4 linked regions of the Homo sapiens genome follow. The protein of the gene in region 1 interacts with the protein of each later gene in a pairwise test. Each region holds a gene or a part of one and is shown on either strand. Other genes may lie near its edges.

Region 1 (7,034 bases):
CTGCTCCTCTTCTTGGTCTGGGAGATCTGGGGCTAGCCCTGACCACTCCTGAGAGCCCAGAAAGGGAGAGCCAACACCCCAGCCCCATCCAACATGACTGCTGCCCCATCCAGGACTCCTGGGCTGCCCCTGGTTCTCAGCCCCTGTGTAAGAGCAGGATGGCCTGGCACAAAGCTAGCCTGGGGCCAGCTTTTAGTCCCGGCTTTCCCACTGAGCCCCCATGCGACCACAGACAAGACACCTTCCCTCTCTGGGCCTCAGTATTCTATAAAATGATGCGCCCATCTACTGAGCACCCTGTATGAGCCCTCCACTGTGTTTGATGCTTTCAAGTCGTCACTGAGTCCTCCCGTGGCCCTGCAGAGCACTACCTCTCTTTTTCTAGAGGCAGGAAACAGGTCCAGAGAGGTTCGGTGGCTGTCCAGTAGTTTTAGTAGGAAGTAAGGAAGTAGGAAGGTAGAAGCTGAATCTAGGTAGGACTGTGGGCTCTCGAGTGCGTCAACTTAACACCATTGCCCATTTCAGCACCAACTCCCCTGTCCCTCCAGATGGTGTGGTCCTCGAGGGCAGACTAATCCCATCAGGCCTTTTCAGGCCTGGCCTCCCTGGCCCACCCTGCTTAGCACCTGCGGATCTCAGGGGCCAGCTGCTCCATGTCCTGGTGGAAGACGTAGGGAGGGTTGCTGACAATCAGGTCCATGGGGCCCCAGGGCAGGTGTGTCCAGCTCCTTTCTGTCGTCAAAGAAGAGGACACACAGTAGGGACTAACCCATTGGGAGGTAAAGGATGATAGCTCCACCTGCCACCATGTCCCTCTCACCATGCCACACCTTGGGCCTGCCTCTGGATCTGATAAGCCAGACCTGCAAATTAGTGCCCAGGGTCCCCAGCTGGCAGCCTGGTGGGGAATGTGCATGCTTTAACATGGCAGCCCCTCATTTCAAGGCATAGAGTGTCCTTGCCAAAAATCCTCCTTATTATGCAAGACTCTGTTCAAGTGCCACTTCCAGGGCGTCCTCCCTGATTGCCTAGGCAGAAAAGAGCCTTTCTCTTCTGTAGCTCCACTAGCCTTATAGCCAACATGGACTGAGAGTACATGGAGGGTAGGCCTGGCCTCATCAGCCAATTCCTGATGGCTCTGACTACTGGTTTCACCCTGTGCCAGGTGCTACACCAAGTATATCACATTCCATGGAGGGGGCACTGAGGCTCAAGGATCCCACGGGTAAGGCAATGGAGCCAGAACTGGAGTTGGAGGCCTGGAGACACTGTAAAGGCTATAGCTGAGCTGTGCAGTGCCTGGACCACTTCCCCTGCCAGGCAGGGGGAAAGGGGCACTCAAGTATTTTGGTCCTGAAGGCATTATTTTAAGCTTTTGCTTATCTGTTGCCAACAAGCAAGCCCTTAACTCATTGGTTGTGAGGAATTCGGAAGTTCTCTGTGGCTGGTCCCTTATGGGTCAGGTCAGCCTAGGAGGCAAAAGCACCTTGTCTGTCCTCAGCCAAGGCTTCGTTTGAGCTGCCACAAACGTGCACACACACACGTGTATGTGTGTGTGTTGTGTGTGGCTGTGTGGCTGTTGGGGGAGCTCTCCCTCCATCTCCACGGAGTGCCTCATCCACCCAGCAGCACCTGCATCTAGTCTCCCTCTCTCAAGGAACATGCAGGGGAGGGTACCTGAGGTCATGTCGAGGTGGATGATCCAAATCCTGTCCTGCAACCGAAGCCTACACAGACAGGGAGAAAGGGGTAGGCACGGGGGCAGACCCCTACCCTTCACTACAAGAATGAGGTCTTATAGTCAACCCTTCTTGGACTGGCAAGATACTCACTGCCCACTACCCATTCAGAACCCCATGGGACCCATGCCAGGCTACCCCACTGCTTCCTCCTTCTTGGGAGTAGAAATCAGACATTGGTGAGTTTGAAACCTGAAAAGGAGTCAAGATTAGGCCCCAAAGTGCAACTCCCCCACCTACCTCTGAGCATTCTCATGGGTCAGAGAGATAGCAGCTTCCCGCTTATCCACAGCAATGACTCGGCTCTGTCCCAAGAACAAACAGAGGATATGTGGAAGGCAATGCTGAGAGATGCTGGAAGATACTGGGCCTGGGGGACCCTCCTCCAACCCCCCACCAGAAGAGAAGGGAAATACCCAACAGCCTTTTCTTCTTGGCCAAAGTCTAGCCAGATAGATGTGGTAGGCGTTAGAGTCTGTGAACCACAGTGGGCTAGGGGCAGCCCTGTCCTCCCTCATCCAGCTGCTTCCCCTCAAGCGCTCCTAGCAGAGGGATGTGGGGGAAGCACTAATGGGAGGGACAGTGAGTGTCAGTCACAGTCTATCCAGAGTGGGTGGAGGGGCTCACCTGGGGGAGCTGGCTCAGCAGGCTGAGGGAGATGGCTCCTGATCCGCAGCCCACCTCCAGAATGAGGGGGCTGCCTGGGGATCCCACAGCATGGGACCTCTGGGCCACCTCTTCCAGCACCCACTCAACCAGTTCCTGTGAAGCAGAGGGATCTGGATCAGAGTCGGTGCCAACGTGGCTCCTGGGGGTCTTGGTACAGAGGCCTAAGCAGTTACCCTTGTGAACGTAGGAAGGGGAGGTAGCCAAAGCCAGACTGACCTTCATGTCAGCTGGGGCATGGCCAAGTCACCCTGCCCCTCCAGGCCTCAGCTTCCCCATCTGTACATCTGAGCCCAGTTGAGGATAGCCCACCTCGTGGGGATGTGGTGGGGATTAAATGCACTAATCCACACCTGTTTCATGTTAAGTGTTCAATCAACCCCAGCTAAGCCCTTTACAGACATCCTCCCATTCTGTGCTTACAGAAATGCTAAGAACTGGCTGGGCACGGTGGCTCATGCCTGTAATCCCAACACTTTGTGAGGCTAAGGTGGACAGATCACTTGAGTTTGGAGTTTGAGACCAGCCTGGCCAACATGGTGAAACCCCGTCTCTGCTAAAGGTGTGAAAATTTGCCAGGCATGGGCATGGTGGCGGATGTCTCTAGTCCCAGCTACTCAGAAGGCTGAGGTGAGAGGGAGAATTGCTTGAGCCCGGGAGGTAGAGGTTGCAGTGGATCAGGATCGCGCCACTGCACTCCAGCCTGGGAGACAGAGCAACACTCCATCTCAAAAGAAAAAAGCTAAGAACCATACCTGATAGTTCCTGTCCACTCCCTCTGGCCTGACCCTGCTCCCAGAGTTTTTCCTGTATTAATCTGTTAAATCCTCACAAGTGTCCCATGAGGAAACTGAGGCCTGGGGTCAAGGCCCCACCTGAGCCTGGCCTGTGGTTTCATGGTGGCCAAGAATCAGGAGCTGGTGTGTCCCCAGCCTCCTCACAGAGCTGGGCTTGAGAGGCCCCCAGGGAGGCTCCTAGGCCAAAGGGACAGGGAATTCCCTCTTTTGGAGGAGATGGGCCATGGGGGGACATGGTCCTGACTAAGGACCTGAGGGCTGTGGCATACACAGGCATAGGTCAACAGGCATGGGTGCAGAGGGAGGTGCCTGACTGCACTGTACCTGCCCTGGCAGCAGGAGGACATTTTCAGACACTGTCACTTTGGAAACAAGAGGGTTTCAAGCCTTGCCTACCCAGCCACTGCCTGCAAGGACTATGCCTGTAAACCAACATAGGGTAGGGGTAAAGGGTGGAAGGCTCCTGCCGTCCAATGGCCAAAATTTTTCTAACCAGCAGTGGAGTGGGACACCTGAGTAGCCAGGCATGAGACAAGGAAAGGGCAGTGTAGCTCCTTCTCAAAGGCATCCCTTTGGATGTGGGCAGAGAAGCCCCCCAGAGGGTCAGGACTCCTGGGACCCCAGGTCTCAGGAAAGACTGGCTCAGGGAGCTGGGGATGGTGGGCAGCAAGTGGGTGCTTCCCTGATCTGAAAAGAGGACTACCTATTCCAGAAAGCCTTCCTCAAGCCTGGGCCAGGCTCTACCACGGCTTTCTCCACCCTGAGCCTAAGGTCTAGCCTAAGGATGGGGTGTGCCTCTCCCACCAGACGCCATAATAGGAAGACCTGAGGTCTGACTCATCGCAGTGTGTCCCACACTGGCAGGGCTTGGCCCACAGACAAACCTCTTGGCTACTTTCTTTTTTTCTTTTCTTTTCTTTTTTTTTTTGAGACAGAGTTTCGCTCTGTTGCCCAGGCTGGAGTACAATGGCGCGATCTTGGCTCACCGCAACCTCCGCCTCCCAAGTTCAAGCGATTCGCCTGTCTCAGCCTTCCCAAGTAGCTGGGATTACAGGCATGCACCATTGTGCCTGGCTAATTTTGTATTTTTAGTAGAGACAGGGTTTCTCCACGTTGGTCAGGCTGGTCTCGAACTCCCGACCTCAGGTGATCTACCCGCCTCAGCCTCCCAAAGTGCTGGGATTACAGGTGTAAGCCACAGCGCCTGGCCCTCTTGGCTACTTTCTAAGTGATGGGCAAGCTCTCTGTGGCACCACCCTCTGAGTCTCACACCCCCAGGTCTCCCCCACACCCCAATGCCATCAGCCAGGCCCAATGGAGCAGAGGGCTCCAGATCACTCACACCCATTTTCCACATAAGTTCCCCAGTGCTGGGTTCCAAAAAGCATCTCACCCTTCCAGGCCCCCAAACCCAGCAACAATGTTCACCCACCCTGAGGGTGGCAAGTCCAAAGCAGGCAGAACTTGGCCAGCAGGTCCAACCCTCCATGTTCCAAGCCTCTTCTGCACCTAACAAATGATTGCCTGTGGGTGAGGGGGCCCAGTTCCAGCAGGAGAGAGTGTGTATTCACTAGCTCTCACCAGCCCTGTGCCAGGCACTACTGGAGACCACTAAGGTACTTGTGGCAAGCTTAGCCTGCAAGGTTGGGCCAGGTACAGAGTGAGCAGTATAGGGCTGTGGCTGAGAGCCTGTGGTCTCAGTGGTGAGGCCACAAGCTGAGAGGTTGGTAGGGTGACCAGTTGTTGTCAGGTGTGTAAGCCTCTCTTGGTTTCCTGGTCATAGACAGACCTACTCTGGCTGGAGAATGACCCCTCAGCCAGCCACACTGGCCAGCCACCTCACAGAGATACTCAAAGACCTCAAAGACACACACCACGTATGTGGATGGCCACCTTGGGGAGGGTAAGAAGCTAAGAAACTGAGCCCCTGCCACCACTAGTGGCCTCTTGTTTGCCATAACACTCCAGAGCACCGGAAACTCATCTTGGTTGTAGAGCCACCTGGGGCAGGGGTAGATAACAGCCCAAGGAGTCCAGAAACTTTCTCTTCTCCTCCTAGTGAAGAGCCTCCCTCAGCCTAACGCTGGTGGCTCTTTCGGCAAGACTAAAAGCCATGCTGGTCACAGGCTCAGGGCACCCCCTCCAGGTGAATATGGTAAGAATCCAAGAACAGGGTGGGGCACAGACGCATGCGGGAAAGAGGTGAGGGGCAGGCAGTTGTTGGCTCTGCCTAGAACTGCTGCCCCAACATGGACTCCATACCCCATCAAGAGGCTGGCCCAAGGCCTGGGCAGAACCTAAGTGCCCATGAGTACCCTCTATTAGGATGGCATCCCTGGTGGGGCAGACCCAGGGAGGTGGCATTGCCTCCTTCAAGCCAATCACAGACAAAACACTGAGCCTCCCACAACCTGTACAGCCTCACAGCAGGCTGGGTGAGAATGGTTCACACCCCCAGCCCTGAGTTTCCTACTGTATTCACTGCCAGGCCAGGGGCTGAACCACCTTCTCACCCTTAGGGAAAATGCAACTCACTGGGCACATGCCTCCTGCAAGTTTGCACTTCAGACTCCCCTTTCATCAGAAACCATCCCCTGCACCCATTCTCACTACTCCCTGCCACAGGCCACGTCCTCTTGAGTTCTTGGTAAGGCATCCCCCGATGTGGCTTTACATTGGGGTGAACCTGGTGAGTTCTCAGAAATGTCTGCACAGCAAGATGAGCACCTGGCCTCCCAATCGCAGCATCTCCCCTCACCCCACCCCTTGCAGTAGAGCTGCTCTCTTGGCCCAGACCCATCCAAGAATCAGGGGGCCACATGGGAGCCAAAGTCCACACTTGATACTCAGAACCCTGGCACATATGGCTGGTGCCAGGTCAGCTCTGAAGGAACTCAAAAGTCACCATGCCCTGACCCTGGGAAGCCGGAGACAGCAAATGATCTCTTCGCCAGAGATCACGTGTTTTCAGGAGCCACAGGTAAGCCTCCCAAAGTCTGCAGGTGGCAGGCCACACCCTGCTCTGGGTCTCCATACTGTGTCCTAGGTCATGCCAATCCCAGATGGGGCAGCCCCATGTGAGGGATGGGGCTCTGAGCTGGGAGTCAGGAAGTCCACGTGCTGCCCCCATGCTCCCTTCCTTGACAGCCCTGTGACTTCAGCAAGGCCTCAGATTCCCTACTGTCCCTGCCCTGACACTGGGCAGTGAAGCAAGGACCTGGCCTCCCAACCACATGATATGGAGAGGAGAGGGGTCAGAGAGTTTCTTGGCTAGGGGACAGAAGCTGAGAAAGTGAAAGAAGGGTTTGGGGCCCCCTGGCCACAGCAGGGGAATGGGAACTAACCTTTCCCAGAAATGTTTGTGTGCCTAGGTCTTTCTAGAAACACTCCTTCTCAGAACCTGGCGCCCTCTGGCTTGCCCACCAGCTCTCACCCAGCTCTACTCCCTGGTCTGCGCCCTCTGGCTCCCAGCTCTGTCATCTACAAGGTCAGAGGGGAGTCCAAGAAGGGCCATATAAAGCGTCTCTTCCAGGACCAGGGTGCCTTACCAAGGGATAACACACTTGCGCCACACATCCCTAGTCCTAGTAATTTGAGGGACAACACAGGTGATTACCAGACCAGTCAGTAGACCTAAGAGGGCCACCAGATTCTCTGGGCTGGAGGGCTAACCCTCTCATCATCTGGGCCCAGAGATGGCAGGAGGGCAGTGACCTGCCCAAGGTTGCACAGCTGATACCAGGTCTCCAGGTGTCCGGCTGGAGCCCTCTCCACTTCCTCCATGCCTCCTGAGAAGCTGCTGGAAGACATTTGTTCCCTGTGGGTTGGGTGA
Region 2 (7,034 bases), on another chromosome or scaffold:
CATCAACAAAGAAAAACATTTGTTACTGATTATCCTTTCTTATGTTTGAATTTCATCTTTTAGGGTAAACAGGTTGACAGCATCAACTTGACTTCAAGATTCTCTTTCAAGAAATTACCATTTGAATAAGGATGTTCCATATTATGGGCATCTGGCAATGATCTACAAATACAGAACCAACTATTCAAAAAGCATGGGAAAAAGCAGATTTTTTTAATGGCTTATGCCTTTCATCTCCTTTTTTTCTTTAGTCAATTCTGGAAAAAAAACTTCCAACAATTAAAAACTTACAGTTGTTCATATTTTTTAAATTGCAAAAAAGAGAAGAAAGATCAGGCCGTAATTAAAAATCTTAATTTCCACACCTTTCTTCATTCTTTCTAAAATACTGTACCTTTTCATAATTAATTAACCTGGATTTCTCTTATCTTTTCATCTTATTAGAATCCTTCTCTCATTATTCATAGATTCCTTTCAACTTGATATCAGAATTGAGAACCCAAGGTTCAGTGTACAAGGGCACCTCGGCTGAAGGAGACTCTAGGACTCTGTTCTAAATCAATGGCCTGACCTCTGGATAGGGAGGGGTTTTGGATAATGCAGTGTGGAAGGAAGTATCTGGAAAAGACAGAAAGAAATCTTTGGATTACATTTTCAATGTGCTAGCTTTGTAAAGAGTTAAATATAGCCAGTTAGGAGTAAAAACAGAAAAGTCTTAATAACGTGTAACTTTTACTATCCTCTGCTTTCTAAAAAAAAAACTTTTCTACGATCAAGCTTTAGGATTTTGAGTTCCGTTCTCTGAAGAGTTTAATTAGGTTAAGTTTAATGAAGATGAACATTTCTGATAAAATGCTGTAATTCTCTTAATAGAATTTCATAACAAATTAAGAAATACATGTGTGGCTAGGCGCGGTGGCTCATGCCTGTAATCCCAGCACTTTGGGAGGCCGAGGCAGGTGGATCACTTGAGGTCAGGAGTTCGAGATCAGCCTGGCCAACATGGCGAAACCCCGTCTCTACTAAAAATAAAAAAAATCAGCCAGGCCTGGTGGTGTGCGCCTGTAATCCTAGCTACTCGGGAGGCTGAGGCCGGAGAATAGCTTGAACCTGGGAGGCAGAGGTTGCAGTGAGCCAAGATCATGCCACTGCACTACAGCCTAGGTGACAGAGCGAGACTCTAAGAAAAAAAAAAAAAACAAGAAGAAGAAATAAATGTGAACATTTTCCCTAAGAGATATCCAGCCTTAAAAATAACTAGTATTTTCTAATATAAGCTTCAGCAAACTTTTAGAATTGTGGGCCAAGTTTTCTCTAATGTGAGAGAAACAGGAATGTGTGATCAGCAGACAGCCTGTCATTAATTCTCCAGAGTAGAAATAAGGGTTCACACTGATTTTCCCAGCCAGTGGCAGCTCTAAAAAGGAGGGGGCAGTTGAGTAGGGTGCAACATCTACACCAAGTGCTCTCCTGGAAAATGCACCATCTCATTAGATCCAATCCCACTGCTTTGGAATTCAAACCACAAACTCCCAGACAAAGCTGTAGATACTAAAAGCAGTTCAAATTTAGTCATTTACAGTGGAAAGCAACTCCATGAGGGAACTCACCACCACATCTCCTTCCTGCGGAAGACTGTTTGCTGGCAGCCTATTTTTCTCTTCATTGTTGTGGTAAAGGGCTCCATCATTTCTCATCACCAGACTGTGCATATCTCGGCCAAGAGGAATCTGATTCAAGTTAACCTTCTGAGTTGCAACACCAATACCCCAGATTCCTAAAAATATAACAGTTTAAATGCCCTCAAAATCTGAAGACTACAACCATCGAGTTATTTTAAAAGGGAGTATAAACTTTTTAAAGGAAGTGCTGTATTAACACTAAATTGTTTTCTATTACTCTTTTTAAAAAATCTTCTTTTAGAAGTAGTTTGCACCAGCCTGGGCAACATGCCCAAACCCCGTCTCTACAAAAAATACAAAAATTAGTTGGGCATGGGAGCATGTGCCTGTAACCCCAGCTACTCAGGAGGCTGAGGTGGGAGGATTGTTGGAGCCAGGGAAGTTGAGGTTGCAGTGATCCATGATCATTCCACTGCACTCCAGCCTGAGCGACAAAGCCAGACCCTGTCTCAATAAATAAAATAAAATAAAAGTAGTTTGCAAACTATACTATGTTCTCCACAGATGTAGTACAGCCTAGGAGATAAGAGAGTGGGCCCTGGAACAGTGCAAATGAGGATTAAATCTTGACTCTGCTACATCATCTTGCGCAAATTACCTAACCTCTCTTTGTTCCCTTATCTGTGAACTGAGGATTCTAACAGTACTCACCTTGCAAGGTAATGAAAAGATACAACAAGATAATCCAAGTAAAGCACTTGAACAGTGTAAGTACTCCACAGCATGAGAAAGTAAAGCACACAGTAAGTATTCAGAAAATGCTAGCTGTCATCATCATCATTATTATTATCTCAAAAAGATTTTTTAAAAGCTACACATTGAATTTAAATGGCCTGGAGTTCAATTTCAAGCTCTCCCTTTGAAAAGTGGGAATGTACTGTCTTCAGTTTTTACATCTACAATGAGTGACAAACAATATATACCATAAGCAATATCATGGAGAGGAGAAATTAACAATAAGGTGTAAAATCATTTTCTTACCCAGTATTTTAAGCCACCACACCCAGCTAATTTTTCTTTTCTTTGTAGAGATGGGGTTGTGCTATGTTTGCCCAGGCTGGTCTCAAACTCCTGGCCTTGAGCAACCCTCCTGCCTCAGTCTCCCAAAGCGCTGGAATTACAGGTGTAAGCCACCATGCCCCATTGAAAATCATTATTTAAAACTAATTTAGAGCTAGGCACGGTGGCTTGAGCCTGTAGTTTCAGCTACTGGGAAGGCTGCGGCAGGAGTACTGCTTCAGCCTAGAAGCTCAAGGCTGCACTGAGCTATAATCATGCCACTGCACTCCAGCCTGGGTGACAGAGCAAGACCCCATCTATAAATAAATAAATAAGTAAAAATAATTTAGAAAATAAGCCCTAGGGGGAAATTTTATATCATTCAAGGCTGGCCAAGTAATAGTAAGATTCATTTACTCCACTCTCATTTTCCTATTCTCTACCCACATTACTGATGCAGTATTTCACTAGAAGTTTATTTACAATAAAGCTTGTTTTGTTTTTGTTTTTGTATTTGTTTTTTTGAGACAGAGTCTTGTACTGTTGCCCAGGCTGGAGCGCAGTGGCACGATCTCGGCTCACTGTAACCTCTTCTTCCTGGGTTCAAGCGATTCTCCTGCCTCAGCCTCCCGAGTAGCTGGGATTACAGGCGCCCACCACCACGCCTGACTAATTTTTTGTACTTTTAGTAGAAACGGGGTTTCACTATGTTGACCAGGCTGGTCTCAAATGCCTGACCTCGTGATCCACCCCCTCGGCCTCCCAAAGTGCTGGGTTACAGGCGTGAGCCACCACGCCCAGCCACTTTTTTTTTTTTTGAGACGGAGTCTCACTCTGTTGCCCAGGCTGCAGTGCAGTGGCATAATCTCAGCTCACTGCAGCCTCTGTCTTCCGGGTTCAGGCAATTCTCCTGCCTTAGCCTCCCGAGTAACTGGGACTACAGGTGCCCACCACGATGCCTGGATGATTTTTGTATCTTTAGTAGAGATGGGGTTTCGCCATGTTGGCCAGGCTGGTCTTGAACTCCTGACCTCAGGTGATCTGCCCACCTCGGCCTCCCAAAGTGTTGGGATTACAGGTGTGAGCCACTATGCCCGATCACTTTACAGTAAAGCTTTTATTTTAAAAGTTTTCCCATATACAATACAGGCACAGTTAACTAACCTATTATAATCACATAGAATTGCTTTACAGTTCAAGAAACTCCATAAATTTTAAAAAGAGAAATATAGACTGCAGACTTCTATCTGAATTCTGAATTTGATGACTGCTTCAAAACACTGAATCAGGGTATCTTAATAACTGAGTTAAGAGAAAAACTCTGGCTCATGCCTGTAATCCCAACACTTTGGGAGGCCGACGAGGGCAGATCACAAGATCAGGAGTTTGAGATCAGCCTGACCAACATGGTGAAACCTCTGTCTCTACTGAAAATATAAAAATTAGCTGGGCATGGTGGTGCATGCCTGTAATCCCAGCTACTCAAGAGGCTGAGGCAAGAGAATTGCTTGAACCCGGGAGGCGGAGGTTGCCGTGAGTCAAGACCGCGCCACTGCACTCCAGCCTGGGTGACAGAGCAAGACTCCATCTCAAAAAAGAAAAAAAAAAAGAAAAACTCAGAATCAACAGATTGACTTTAATCCTAAAATAAATAGCAAGAGTATATGCTGCTTATATGTTTGACCTTATATGCTTGACCAAACAAGAGGGTTCATCCGGATCCCATTAAAAATACTAGTGCCTTATATTTATGCAGCATGTCTTGTCTTAAAACACTTTCATACATAGAGTTCCTGTGAGGCAGAATGGGCAGCTCCTGTAATACCCATTTTATAGATGAGAAAACTGAACCTAATTTAACTAAATTAACTAATTTACCCAGGATCACACAACAAGAGGTGGAAGACCCAGATCTTCTAAGAGTTTGGTGCTTTTATATTACCTTCTGAATCTTTTTTATGTGTTACAAATTACTCTTAATATTTAGAACAATTAGGACTTTTAATAGTAAAGTACCATTATACCAACCTGTGGACTGGATTTTGAATTCAAAATAGCTTTTGTTTTGATGTAAAGGTGCGCTGGCTAAACAACCTCCTGTTCCACATATTCTTCTTCCATTCTTTACAATAACAACATCTGTTCCTAAACAAAAAATGCAGACACTATGTAAAGTTTTGTATTTTCTTTTCTTTTCTTTTCTTTTTTGAGACGGAGTCTTGCTCTGTCACCCAGGCTGGAGTGCAGTGGCACGGTCTTGGCTCACTGCAACCTCTGCCTCCTGGGTTCAAGTGATTCTCCTGCCTCAGCCTCCCGAGTAGCTGGGACTACAGGTGTGCACCACCACACCTGGCTAAATTTTTATATTTTTAGTAGAGATGGGGGTTTCACCATATTGGTCAGGCTGGTCTTGAATTCCTGACCTCGTGATCCGCCCACCTTGGCCTCCCAAAGTTCTGGGATTACAGGCGTGAAGCACCGCGCCTGGCCAAGTTTTCTATTTTCAATCCAACAATCAGGATTAATTTGTTCAGTTCTAACTCAGTCCACAAAAAATAGGGACACTGTAAGTACTTTGAAATATAGCTGAATTATTTTAAATATTTAATTCACTATTTTTTCCTAAGAGAACATTTATAAGTAATATTCATTTGTATGTATAAGTTTTAATTAAGCATGCTGGGTACAGTGGTTCGTACCTGTAATCCCAGCACTTTGGGAGGCCGAGGTGGGCAGACTGCTTGAGTGCAGGAAGTCGAGACCAGCCTGGGCAACCTTGCAAAACCCCATCTCTATAAAAAATACAAAAATTAGCTGGTGTGGTGGCACAAGCCTGTAGTCCCAGCTACTTGGGAGGCCGAGGTGGGAGGATCACTTGAGCCTGGGAGGCAGAGGTTGCAGTGAACTGAGATTGCACCACTGCACTCTAGCCTGGGCGAGAGAAGTAAGTTTTAATTAAGCAGTTTCAAGTAAACTGCAATAACTCTGAATTATATTGAACGTTCAAAACACTTTTAAGGTAGAAATAGACTAACTCTTTTAATTTTTAGCCAGGAAACCAATTTGATGATTTCATAAATTTCTTAATTTAAACCAAAACATAAACACAAGAGACTTTAGTAAATTGGTAGTTTTCAATTCTATTCAAATGAATTAAAACAATTTACTAAAAGCCACCTGAATGCCTACTAAATACAAGCTACTATACTTGTGCATTAGTCATGTAAGAACTGAAGAGTACAGGGAATATGAAAAAGAACACACATCTATGTTGAAATACCTGACAGTGACAAACTGCTAACTTTAGGATCTTAAAATGTTTATTAAGATAGCTACTTCAATCACATTGCAAATATGTAAACAAGGTTTTAACATTCTTACATGCACTTTATTCTCGTAGAAAATTTTTTAGATGAAACGACATCTATAGATGAGAGTGAGAAAGAGAGACACTGTCTCCTGATGTGATCCTAGTACCAATTTGATTTAGGAAAATGTCTATCAGAGAATATACATAATTCTAACATGTAAGAATACACAGAATTACATAATTCTAATATGTAAGAAATAGCCCATACACCAATGCATAACTCCCCATACTTGTGGCCACTACCACCACTTTGCTGGCAATAACTGTACCAGCCAAGCAGATCTGAATATTCGAACTGTATGGGACTCTTCCAGAAGGGGTTAAATAAAATTAGGTCATAGTAACAAAAGGTTGAATTAACAGTTAAACAAAATTATTTGGTACAAATACATAAAAGAAATGCAAAATTTTCAGATTCTAACACAATTCTAAACTGGTTAAGAGATGCTCTCCCTTAAACAAGGCAAAACTGAGATCCTATTGTATGATTACTAAAAATTCATTAACATCTTTTTTTTTCTAATTAAAAAAGTTAACCCCCAAATTCTGGGAAAGTACCTTTATAAATAATTTGCATCTGGCTACTCCATATACCTCCAGTAATTTCAACTGGAGAGCATCCTCCTTGATGGCAAAGACCATGCAGTGCTTGGCATTGAGCAGCTGCTCATCAAATAACTGATAAAGGTTGAATTAATATGCTGTGCTAAGCACTTTGTAGTGGACATGCAGTATCTGTTCTCCCTCTCCCGACAGACTTCCCTCTGGAGATCAAAACAGTTCCAAGAAAGCTGACTCAATCTCTGCTTCAGGTGTACAACATTTGATCTAGGTTAAGGCAATCAGTGCCCTCCACATTTCTTGGCCACAGTAACTGAGTCAAGAACTGCTACATGACCTAATCAACTACAATCAGAATCTCAGGACTTTTGCAGAGCACAATGGGATATAACACTCTTGGCCAGGCGAGGTGGCTAACACCT
Region 3 (7,571 bases), on another chromosome or scaffold:
CATCCCTCAACACGTGGGTTTCTCACCAACACAAGGGCCTGGGAAAACTTCGAACCCCGTTTGCAAACAGCCCCCATTGTTCTTAGGGCTAAAGCACAGCCTGGCGCCGCTCCCCAGGCCAAAGGCACCCCACATGCACACCCAGGACTCACCTGAGAAAGGGGGCAGCCCACCCCGCACCTGGCACAGCCCCAACAGTGCCTCACACTTGTCCGTGCCCAGGGACGTGCAGCTCGCGGGGTCCCACTGCCTGGAGGACGCAAGGATGTGCGGCACGGGCTCTGGGCTGGCCGACGCTGGATCCAGGGACCAAGGACTTTCCAGAAACGCCTTCACATCTGGGGTTCTAGAAGGAGCAACATGACAAGGATCCTGGGTCTATTCCCCAGCCCCCTGGAAGGCTGCCCCCACCCACCCCAAGAGCAGAGGGCTGGACCCATCCCCAGGACACCCCAGGCACCACCCAGCATCAAGCCAGCCTCTGCCCAGGGGCCCTGGGCCAGCCAAGCTCCACAGCTGTCTACCCAGTTTCCCTCTGCCCAACTCCTCCGGTTCTAGATTCTTCCACAGCTAATTAGCCACCAGTCCCATGCCCCAGCCTGCTTTGGGGTAAAATGGGTACATTTAAACACAAGATGCAGACAGTCCTTCAACCTGGGGAGCTGCCATTCTGAAAAGAACCAAATTATCTTGACTTCAGAAAACTGCATTCCTGAAGCTGCCCATGGGGAGGAGTATGACACCTCACTGACCACCTGTAAATTCCCCACACACAGGAGCAGAAGAGATCCTCCCGGGCACCTCCCACCTCCACACCAGCCCAGGCCCTCAATTCTGCTGACCGCGCTCCCCCCTTGCTGGAGCTCGCCCATGTTGGTCACCTCACACCTGGCCACCTGAGTTGGCAGGGCCCTGGGCAGGTCACCACCTGCGGAGGCCAAGCCGGGCCTCCAGGCCACACCCTCCCGAGGACATGCCAGGGGGCTTTGGGTCTGCTGCTCCCAGGGTCACCCAGCCCTGGAGAGCGGGCCCCAGGAGACACTAACCGAGTCCCGCTGGACGCTCCCGTCCCAGGGTCTGGCACACCTGCTTGAATCTGACTCGACAACGTCAACTGTAAAACATCCTCCTGCAACGAGTGCCACATTTCCTTGGAGGAAGCAAGAATCTGAAATTTAAGTAAACATGTAAAACAAAGACAGAGACAGTCAGCTGAGAAACCCAAGACACGGTGACAAGACTGCTACCCCAGGGCCTGGAGGGTCACTGTGAGCTCGGTCCCCGCTTGGAACTTGGGGGCGAGAGTACAGGTTGACAACGAGGCTGAGGTTCCACCCCCGAAAGGCCCCACCATTCCTGAATCAGGCTGTGCATACCCAAGGGCCTCACTGCAAATGCTGGGACCCCTGACCTCACAGATGACAACACAGTTTCATTCCCCACACAGGTCCTCAGCCCCAGCACTCACGGGGTCAGCCAGAGCCCCCAGAGCCTTGGAGAGGGGAGAGGAGCCTCTCTCTTGGAGACGTGCAGAGAAATGATCTAGGGGGTGCTCAGCCAGGGAGGATCAGGAGACCCCAACTCTCCCCCAAATTGGCACGGAGCATCTCGGCAACCCATCAATGAACAGGACTCAGGGGCACAGGAGGGCTGGAAAGGAAGGCTTGCTCCTTTCCAGGAACAGAATAACAACAGGTAAGGCTTGAACAAATCAGGAAGTGCCCTGCCGAAAACGTGGCCTGCTCTAGCCGTGGAGACCCAGAGGGCTGAAGGAGACGGGGATGACAGGGGACACACTGCCTGCAAGGTGGTGAGATGTCCCATCACCGTGATGCCGGAGGACTGACGGCGTCTACCCTTACAACTCACAGCGTGCTGCTCCTGACTGGGCCCCAGGGCGCTGGCAAGCCGCAGGAACTGCACAGACATCTCCAGGACCGAGGCCATGTCCTCCCGCCGGCCATCGAACTGGGGCAGCAGGGCCCGCAGACGCTCACAGCTCAACGACATCCGCTTCCTGGTTCCGGTCAAGAAACAAATACCTCTGGGCCCTCCTGCCCTCCCCGAGAAGGGACAGCAACTGCTAGAACCTGCCAGATAGACCCTGGGCGCTTGTCAGGCAGAGGGGGCTACAAGATGACTCAGAGCTGCCCCCGTGGTCTGAAGCCCCGAGATCCACATCAGAGCACAGCCTGGGCCTGACCCCTGGACCTCGGCGACAGGCTGTCCAGCCCAGGCCCAAACCATGGCTGCTTTGCGGTGTGGAAAAGACAGCGAGGGTCAGAGGCAGTCAGAAGCACAGAGGGTCACAGGTGCACAGCCTCAAGAGGCCAAGGCTTCAGGATAAAGAGGGGCTGCAGGATGTTCCCCAACAGGGCTTTTCTGGTTTACTTGGAGATGTGCAGTCTGTCCTTCTCCTGGGCACAGGCCACGAGCCCCTCCCAGCTGCCTGACACCTGGTGGCAGCCCCGAACATAATCTCACCCGCTCCACCCCTTTACAGCGCCCTCACCCCTGGGAGGCACCACCACTCACCTGCGCTCCCTCTCGCTGATCACGTTCCGCCGAAGGCAGGAGCTGGGACCCTCGGCCACCGTAGGGGCCTTGGGCGGGCCCGAGCCCCGGGCCGAGTCCTCGCAGCAGGAGAGGGCACCAGACAGGGAGCCGCTGCCGAGAAAGCCAAGAGCACCGGGCCCTGAGAACCCCAGAAAAGGCCACCAGGAGTCCCAGATGCCAGAATGGGCGTCTTTGGGGTGCGGGTGGAAGCCAAGACTGGGTCACGTAGGGACACGGCCCGGCCCTCTCTGCACCCCTTCCCCTCTCCCAGGGTCCAGGGCTCCGCCCCAGGAGGCCCAGGATGGGTGGAGCCCAGCAACTTGCGGAAGAACCCCTGGGTACAGGCCTTGGGCCCCCAACCCCTTGGCCGCCAGCCCAATTCCTCACTTGCATCCCCTGACGGTAGGGATTCTGGAGACCTCCGGGTAGGGCTCGGAGCACCGGGACGCCATGAACTCGCAGCTGCGGAGCGACCCCACGCGCACGGCCCCTTCCGCAGGCAGCCCCGCCCCCTCACGTGTGCTCTGCCCACCTGCCACGTGCTTTCCACCTAGCCCACCCCACCCCCACTTGCAATCCGCCCCCATAGCGCATGCGCTCTAGCCCTCCCCACGCAGCCAGCCCGGGGCCCACGTGACCCGCGTTCCTGCAAAGAAGGTGCTGGAAAGGGACTCGGGGGGTCCACCCACTCTATGCCCCCGCAGGACGCCAGGGGAAGGGGCCCCAGCCCAGGTGGCCCTGCCTCTACCCTTACCTTCCCGGGGGTCGCCTCGGTTCCCACTTATGCGGTGGTCTCGGTGCCCTTGGGCACTTTGGAGATGCGGGCTCTGCCCTTAGGAGCCCAGCCCCTGGTGGGAGTGGGCGGGCTGGGCTGAGTTGTTTAGCCCAGGCCTGGGGGACCCAGGGACACAGGGAGGGGGAAGGGTACCCGCCTGCTCCCCAGTCGCCCACGCCTCCATTTTCCCCCAAATCTAGTACGCTTGCAGACGCTGCGCCTCAGGGTAGGGTCACCATCCACACTTCTGGGTCGCCCAGAACCAGGGGCATCTTGTCCCCACCCCAGGCCACCATCGTCCGTGCTCTTCCTCCCGCTGAGCTCTGCCGGGCACCCTCGGAACCGTCTGTCCCTTCACCTGGCCCTGCCCAAGCACCATCCCCGCTTTATGCCCTGGGGCCCCAGCTCGACCCCTCACCTCACACTCTCAACAGGTTTCTGCGGGATCGCGGGGGTCCTGCCCATCCAAATTCAGAAAGCTCCGGCGCCAGGTGTTTGCTCACCTCCCCGCTGAACTCCAGGAGCCGCCCTGCGCTGGGCTTGAGTCCCCCAGTACATACTTTTGGGGGGATGACGGAGGGAAGGGGGAGGTGGAGACCCTTCCTCTTTCACGGAGGTTGCGGGGGGCCCTCAGGGAAGCAGAGGGGACGAGGGTGGGGGGTGAGGCTGGACTGTTGGGAGGACATCCCTGGCCTGGCTCGTGCTGAGGTCGTAGCGGGAGGAGGTGGGGTGGGTGGCAGGGGCTCTCCTCCCGAGAGGGGAGGCAAGAAGGAGCCCGGGCAGGTGCCACCACACGGGGACGTCTGTCCGGGGTGCCCCAGTCTCCTGTGGAGAAGGCGCGGCTCTGGGCCTCGGGCTGGCATCCTGGACTTTGGGCCAAAGATGGGTGAAGGGTGTTTGGAGCAGAGGGAGGTTATGTAATATAAGGTGGTGTCTCCATCCCTGCTCCGCCCAGCCTTGGCTGCAGGTCAGACATGGAGGAGGACGGGGTTGGAGAGGAGGGCAAAAGCTCTCGGGGACCTGGGCCCCTCTCCCGGCCCTGCCCCTGGCCAGGGAGGGATGGACGGGCTGGCGATCTGGGGCTCCTCAGTGGCAGAGTGGGGCCAAGTTTTTGTTTCCCTAAAGCCCTCGGAATGTCATCAAACCTGTGACTCTCCTGCCGTTGACAACACGTGTAATTACTGCTAATTAATCACAGATGCAGATGGTGCGGCCTCTCAGTTTTTTCTGAGTTCCCCAGGCAGGAGGGCGTTGGCAGAAAGGCCACCATCTTGCCCCGGCGGCACCCGCCCAGGGGTGGTGGGACCCCGGCAGCAGCACCGGCCAATCTAGGGACCTGAGGAAAAACCCCCAAGATGCCCACGAGCTGTGTGGCGGGGGCACAGGCTGAACCTCTGCTGGGGACTTAGCATCCTAGACTTCCCCGAGTGTTCCCCACCCACCCCTCAAAAGCATCTGTGTTCAGCCTGCTGCCTCCTGGAGAAACAGGGAAGGACCCTCTGGAGAGACACTGGGGAGGCCAGGGACCACAAAGTACATGGCATGCGCCCTCCAAATGGACCTGGCCCTCCCCCTGGCCCTCGTGGGCACAGTCCTGGCTTAGTGAGGGGCCTGGTCCACCCTGCAAACCAACAAAGCTCTGGGGACAGAAATCGCAGTTCTCCAGAGCTCTGTGTGAGGCTGAGCCAGGGTGACGCATGTGTAACAGTGTGAGCACGTGCACGGGAAAGGGGGCCCGCAGGGGGACCCTCTGCTTCCTAGTCTTTGGCCTGCAGCATCTTAAGTTGGGGCCCCTCCCCACCCGTCTAAAGGTGCTGTGTGTGCCCGTCTGGGTGAGAGCACAGGGCGGGGTGCAGTCATCCCCCTCCCCCAGGCCAAGCCCAGGATGTGGCGCCCACCCACAGATGCCGCAGCCTGCGGGGGGTGTGGGGGCGGGGGGGCGGGGAGTCGTCTTGAATCTGGCTTGTGTTCAATGACCAGTGTTGACCACGGCAGAGCAGCACAAGCGGGAGGTGCTGACGGTCCCTGGGCGCAGCGGCTGGACGCTGGCGGTCCGAGCAGCGCATGTGCCCTGCTGCCCGCCAAGGACCCAGAGCCCCCTGAGCCCCCGCCCACCACGGAGCCCTCCCAGGGGTGTAGGGCCCGGTGGCGGCGCGCTTGGGCTTTTCTAGCCATTGACGAACCCCGTCCTGTTTTTCGGAGTTTTGAGGGCTCAGAGGGCCGCGGCGGGAGCGGATCGCCCTCCCTACCCCGCACCCCCGTCCCAGCCTGGGCCAGAGCCGCCGCGGGTCCCGGCGCGGCCGGCAGGGGGCGCGCGCGGACAGACGCCTGCACCCGACCCTGGAACTGGCGTCTTTTCCTCGCTAATCTGCGAGGAAAAAAAAAATGTTTTTCAGGGCAACGCGAGGGAAGAAGGTGGCGGCTCCCACTCGCTTCTCCCTCGGGTCGGGTCCGAGCTGCCAGGCCGCATGCCACTCCCTGACGGGGCGCGGACCCCGGGGGGCGTCTGCCGGGAGGCGCGCGGCGGGGGCTACACCAACCGGACCTTCGAGTTTGACGACGGCCAATGCGCCCCCAGGTACAGTCTGCTGCGCCCTCCCCACGCGGGGAGGCCCCGGTCTAACCTAAGACCCCCAAGTTCCCCCTCAGGCTCCCGCACCCTCCAGGACCCGCCATTCCCAGGGCCATCCAACTTCCCCAGGACCCGCGAGTGCCCTCCCAACCACCTTGGGGAACAGGGGCGCCCCTCAGGGTGGGCCGCACTAATCAGCAGGTGCCGAGGCAGCAGCGTCCGTCCCCATCTGTCCTCGACCTGGTAAGAAGCTGGGGGGAGCGGCCGTGGCTACATGGGGGTCCTGAGCATCTCCCAGGTGTGGGGAGTGGCAGGGAGGCTGGGGGCGGTGCAGGGCCTTCCATCTCCCCCAGCCCCTGCCCCACCCCAGCTTGGGGAGGAAGGTTCCATCCTTCTTGTGTGGCATGGCAGTGCTCGGCCAGGGTGGGGTGCCCGGCGAGGTTACCCCACACAGTAGGGGGTTTCCAGAGCAACCTTCCAAGGAAGAGTCCCCAGTGGGAAGTGGGCTAAGTGGCTGTCAGATGAGGGCGGGAGTCCTGGGTTCTGGTCACTCCTCGTTCCCCGCTGGCCTATCCCTGGGAGGAGAGGGCCAGTTGAGAATGGCATTCAGGTGACCTGGAGCTAGCTGTTCCCTGTGCAGTGTCCTGGGATGCCATGCGTCTGCCGTCCACCCAGTGACCAGTGCAGAGGCACGGACCGGCAGCTGAGTGGGACAGTCCTGAGCGGAGGTTGCCCCAGGGTCCAGGTTCCCCATCCTCTCCCCCATCCCTCAGCTCTTGAAAACAGGCAAGTCTGCCCCTCACCCTGTCCCCAGAGCCAGACTCCAGGGAACCCTGGGCAGAGCCGGTCACTGCCTTGGGCGAACCCCTCCCCACCAGGACAGAGCCCTTTCTTCTGGATCCTGCCCAGTCTCAGGCTGTCCTGAGGCCAGAGAAGGGGGTGGAAGAGCATACCTGAGAGCGGGAGGCCTGGTGCGGCTGCCTGTTTGTTCTATGGGACTCAGTTTCCCCGAGTGTAAAATGAGGAGGTAGGGCGGATGGTCTTTAAGGGCTGCCTCTGGTGAGGGACCAGGCTGGAGAGGAGGTTCCCAGAATCAAGAGGCAGGCACAGCACCCACCTGGCACCCGGGGGAGTCCGGGGTACAGCGTGTGTGAGGAGCAGGTGCTCTGAGGGTGGACAGTGACTTGGTGATGTCCTTGGGAAGTGGGCACAGCCTGGACGTGCTCTGAGGGACTATCCGGGGGATGCCTGTCAGGCACAGAGAAAATGACCCCAAGGGGGTCCTGGATTGCCCTCATCTTTGTGGGCTGGCCGGCCCCTACCATCTCCCTCCCCAGCCTAGCGTTGCCCTCCCTGGCCATTCTGCTGGAGTTTATCACCTACCCTGCTGGGCCTGACCTGCTCCAGACGAGCCGGCAGGACAGTGTCCTCAGGGTCCAGCCTTTAGCTCCAGGCCTCATCCTCCGGGTCCTTCCAGACACCTGTCTCTCCCAATTGGCCCTGCCCACCGGCCCGGGACAGCTCCTCCTCCCCGCTGGACTGAGCTGGCCTCCGTTGCAACAGAGATTCCCTGTCACACTGCAGGCAGAGCAGCCGCCGGCAGTGGAGGGATGTCAGGCGTCAGGCTTGGGGAGGGAGCAGGACCTGGGCTTGGCTGGGCTCGGGAGC
Region 4 (2,973 bases), on another chromosome or scaffold:
TGGCTGACAGAACAAAACACCACCTCTAAAAATAAAAATATAAAATAAATAAAAAAATTTAAAAACCTAAACATAGCTGCACTTTACTCAATATATTTACAGTTCTACATATGTAAAAACTTGTATATTGACTATGTTTTAAATGTGTAGGGGAAGTTTCTCACCTAAAGGAGTCCCATAGTGAACATTTAAGAGCAAATGATTCCTTTTTTATTTGTATTTTTGGTTTTGCCTCTAGCACATCAGGTATTCTTTAAGAAGGCTATGCCTCTGAGGTTGCATGATCATTAACTAATTCATAATTTCCCTTGCATATATTTGGGTATTTTGGTGTTTCAGCCTTTCCCACACTTTTTTTATTTGCATGTCTTCACGATCACCATTATATCTTTGTTCCACCTGTACTATTATTTACTCACTCTTTGTCTTTAAATCAAATCACGTTTCTTACTCAAGTAGATTTAGTTTTAAGACAAACCTTATGGCCGGGCACAGTGGCTCACACCTGTAATCCCAGCACTTTGGGAGGCCAAGGCGGGTGGATCATGAGGTCAGGAGTTTGAGACCAGCCTGGCCAACGTAATGAAACCCCGTCCCTACTAAAAATACAAAAAATTAGCTGGGCGTGGTGGCGGGCACCTGTAATCCCAGCTACTTGGGAGGCTGAGGCAGGAGAATCACTTGAACCCGGGGGGGCAGAGGTTGCAGTGAGCCGAGATCGTGCCACTGCACTCCAGCCCAGGCAACAACGCGAGACTCTGTCTCAAAAAAAGAAAAAAAGGAACTTTATGTCGCTACCATAAATGTGAAATTACTAGAACTCACAATAAATAGAAGTTAGTAAAGACACTGAATTCTAACTAGACGCTATTGCTTGTTGAAGGCTTTGATCTTAGGAGGATTAGAAAGCATTCTAGGCCAGGCACGGTGGCTTCCTGTGTGTAATCCCAGCAGTTGGAGAGGCTGAGGCAGGCGGGTTGCTTGAGCTCAGGAATTTGAGACCAGCCTGGGCAACATGGCAAGACCCTGTCTCTACAAAAACATACAAAACTTAGCCAGGCGTGGTGATGGCCACGTATGGTCCCAGCTACTCAGGTGGCTGAGGCAGGAGGATTGATGAACCTGGGAGGCTAAGGCTCTAGTGAGCCATGATCACACCACTGCACTCCAGCCTGGGTGACAGAGCCACACCCTGTCTCAAAGGAAAAAAAAAAAAAAAAAAGAATTCTAGTGGTGTGGTGTGGAAGACACATTCTCAGCAGACTAAGGTTGTATCTTTATAACCACAAGGATTGAAAAAGAACGGAAGGACAATAACTTTCTCATAAGGTGATTCAATGTTATTTAGTGCTGTTTCTGTGTACCATCAAAAATCCTCTTACTACACACAGAATATTATAACACCATCTCATTGTCCACATGAGCTCAGAAATTGGTCATCAAAGCAGAAAAGTCTTTAAAACATTGATCTCCGGCCGGGCGTGGTGGCTCACACCTGTAATCCCAGCACTTTGGGAGGCTGAGGCGGGCGGATCACAAGGTCAAGAGATCGAGACCATCCTGGCCAACATGGTGAAATCCCATCTCTACTAAAAATACAAAAATTAGCTGGGTGCAGTGGCAGACGCCTGTAATCCCAAGCTACTCGGGAGGCTGAGGCAGGAGAATTGCTTGAACCCAGGAGGCAGAAGTTGCAGTGAGCCGAGATCACGCCACTGCACTCCAGCCTGGGCAACAGAGCCAGACTCCATCTCGAAAAATAAAATAAAATAAAACATTGATCTCCAAGAAAGTAGATCATATCTGCTCTCTATCTGACCACATTGTTAAACTTGGTTATGTTTGCAGGTTAAAGAGGAAATGATGGACAACAGAGGCAACTCTAGTCTACCTGACAAACTTCCTATCTTCCCTGATTCTGCCCGCTTGCCACTGACCAGGTCCTTCTATCTGGAGCCCATGGTCACTTTCCACGTGCACCCAGAGGCCCCGGTGTCATCCCCTTACTCTGAGGAGCTGCCACGGCTGCCTTTTCCCAGCGACTCTCTTATCCTGGGAAATTACAGTGAACCCTGCCCCTTCTCTTTCCCGATGCCTTATCCAAATTACAGAGGGTGCGAGTACTCCTACGGGCCAGCCTTCACCCGGAAAAGGAATGAGCGGGAAAGGCAGCGGGTGAAATGTGTCAATGAAGGCTACGCCCAGCTCCGCCATCATCTGCCAGAGGAGTATTTGGAGAAGCGACTCAGCAAAGTGGAAACCCTCAGAGCTGCGATCAAGTACATTAACTACCTGCAGTCTCTTCTGTACCCTGATAAAGCTGAGACCAAGAATAACCCTGGAAAAGTTTCCTCCATGATAGCAACCACCAGCCACCATGCTGACCCTATGTTCAGAATTGTTTGAGTTGCTGTTTCCAAATAGAAATGAATAATATCACAAAATGGGGTCTCTTACGGCATCATTCAATAGTTTTTCCTAAATGTAATTTCCATGTGGGCAGGAAATAGCTCAAATGCTAACCTATGCTGGGTATTACTCGCTTGGGCTTCAATTGTACTAAACATGATCTCATGTAGGTTGAGGAGCTGCTCTGCTTCTTTCACGAACTCTAGGGGAGCAGGGGGCCCCAGAGTTTCTGCATGTCTCACCCTGCCCTTCTCACATGCTCGGCCAGAGGCTGAGCATGTGAGAAGCTCTCACGGAAGCTTGTGAAGCGTGACTGCTAACTACCTGATGCCGGTCGTCACTTCGCTGAAGCGTCGTGCTGAGCAATCACAATGAACTTCTCTTTATTTGTCAACATTTGGAGATTTTTACTTATTGGGGATTGACAAGAAGTCACCACCATGGGAAAGTGTCTTGGGGCTAAAGTGAAAGTAGTTTACAAAACCTTGTTGTTATTTGAAATTATTTCAGATGCATCATTTTCCTGCATGCAGACTTCTTCAGGCAGCTTAGTATAGGGTCTAA

The links.
Region 2: the proteins of HEMK1 (region 1) and SPRYD7 interact in binary tests that used the Homo sapiens proteins (3 or more experiments, as listed by UniProt).
Region 3: the proteins of HEMK1 (region 1) and SOHLH1 interact in binary tests that used the Homo sapiens proteins (3 or more experiments, as listed by UniProt).
Region 4: the proteins of HEMK1 (region 1) and ASCL3 interact in binary tests that used the Homo sapiens proteins (3 or more experiments, as listed by UniProt).

What each region holds. Positions count from the first base shown.
Region 1 is NC_000003.12:50,572,519-50,579,552, reverse strand, and holds part of HEMK1 (MTRF1L release factor glutamine methyltransferase), read right to left. Parts: intron 6,183-7,034; coding exon of another isoform or gene 5,727-6,182; exon of another isoform or gene 4,853-5,726; intron 2,502-4,852; coding exon 2,367-2,501; intron 2,045-2,366; coding exon 1,980-2,044; intron 1,728-1,979; coding exon 1,678-1,727; intron 733-1,677; coding exon 627-732; intron 1-626. Other genes in the region: uncharacterized protein C3orf18, read left to right, coding at 5,727-6,182. UniProt on the Homo sapiens protein: N5-glutamine methyltransferase responsible for the methylation of the glutamine residue in the universally conserved GGQ motif of the mitochondrial translation release factors MTRF1, MTRF1L, MRPL58/ICT1 and MTRFR.
Region 2 is NC_000013.11:49,926,309-49,933,342, forward strand, and holds part of SPRYD7 (SPRY domain-containing protein 7), read right to left. Parts: intron 4,827-7,034; coding exon 4,710-4,826; intron 1,778-4,709; coding exon 1,611-1,777; intron 1-1,610.
Region 3 is NC_000009.12:135,696,460-135,704,030, forward strand, and holds the start of SOHLH1 (spermatogenesis- and oogenesis-specific basic helix-loop-helix-containing protein 1), read right to left. Parts: upstream 3,023-7,571; 5' UTR 3,009-3,022; coding exon 2,944-3,008; intron 2,668-2,943; coding exon 2,536-2,667; intron 2,018-2,535; coding exon 1,870-2,017; intron 1,169-1,869; coding exon 1,047-1,168; intron 347-1,046; coding exon 153-346; intron 1-152. UniProt on the Homo sapiens protein: Transcription regulator of both male and female germline differentiation. Suppresses genes involved in spermatogonial stem cells maintenance, and induces genes important for spermatogonial differentiation.
Region 4 is NC_000011.10:8,937,049-8,940,021, reverse strand, and holds the end of ASCL3 (achaete-scute homolog 3), read left to right. Parts: intron 1-1,848; 5' UTR 1,849-1,860; coding exon 1,861-2,406; 3' UTR 2,407-2,444; downstream 2,445-2,973. UniProt on the Homo sapiens protein: Transcriptional repressor. Inhibits myogenesis. Plays a role in progenitor cells which differentiate into ductal and acinar, but not myoepithelial, cell lineages in the salivary glands.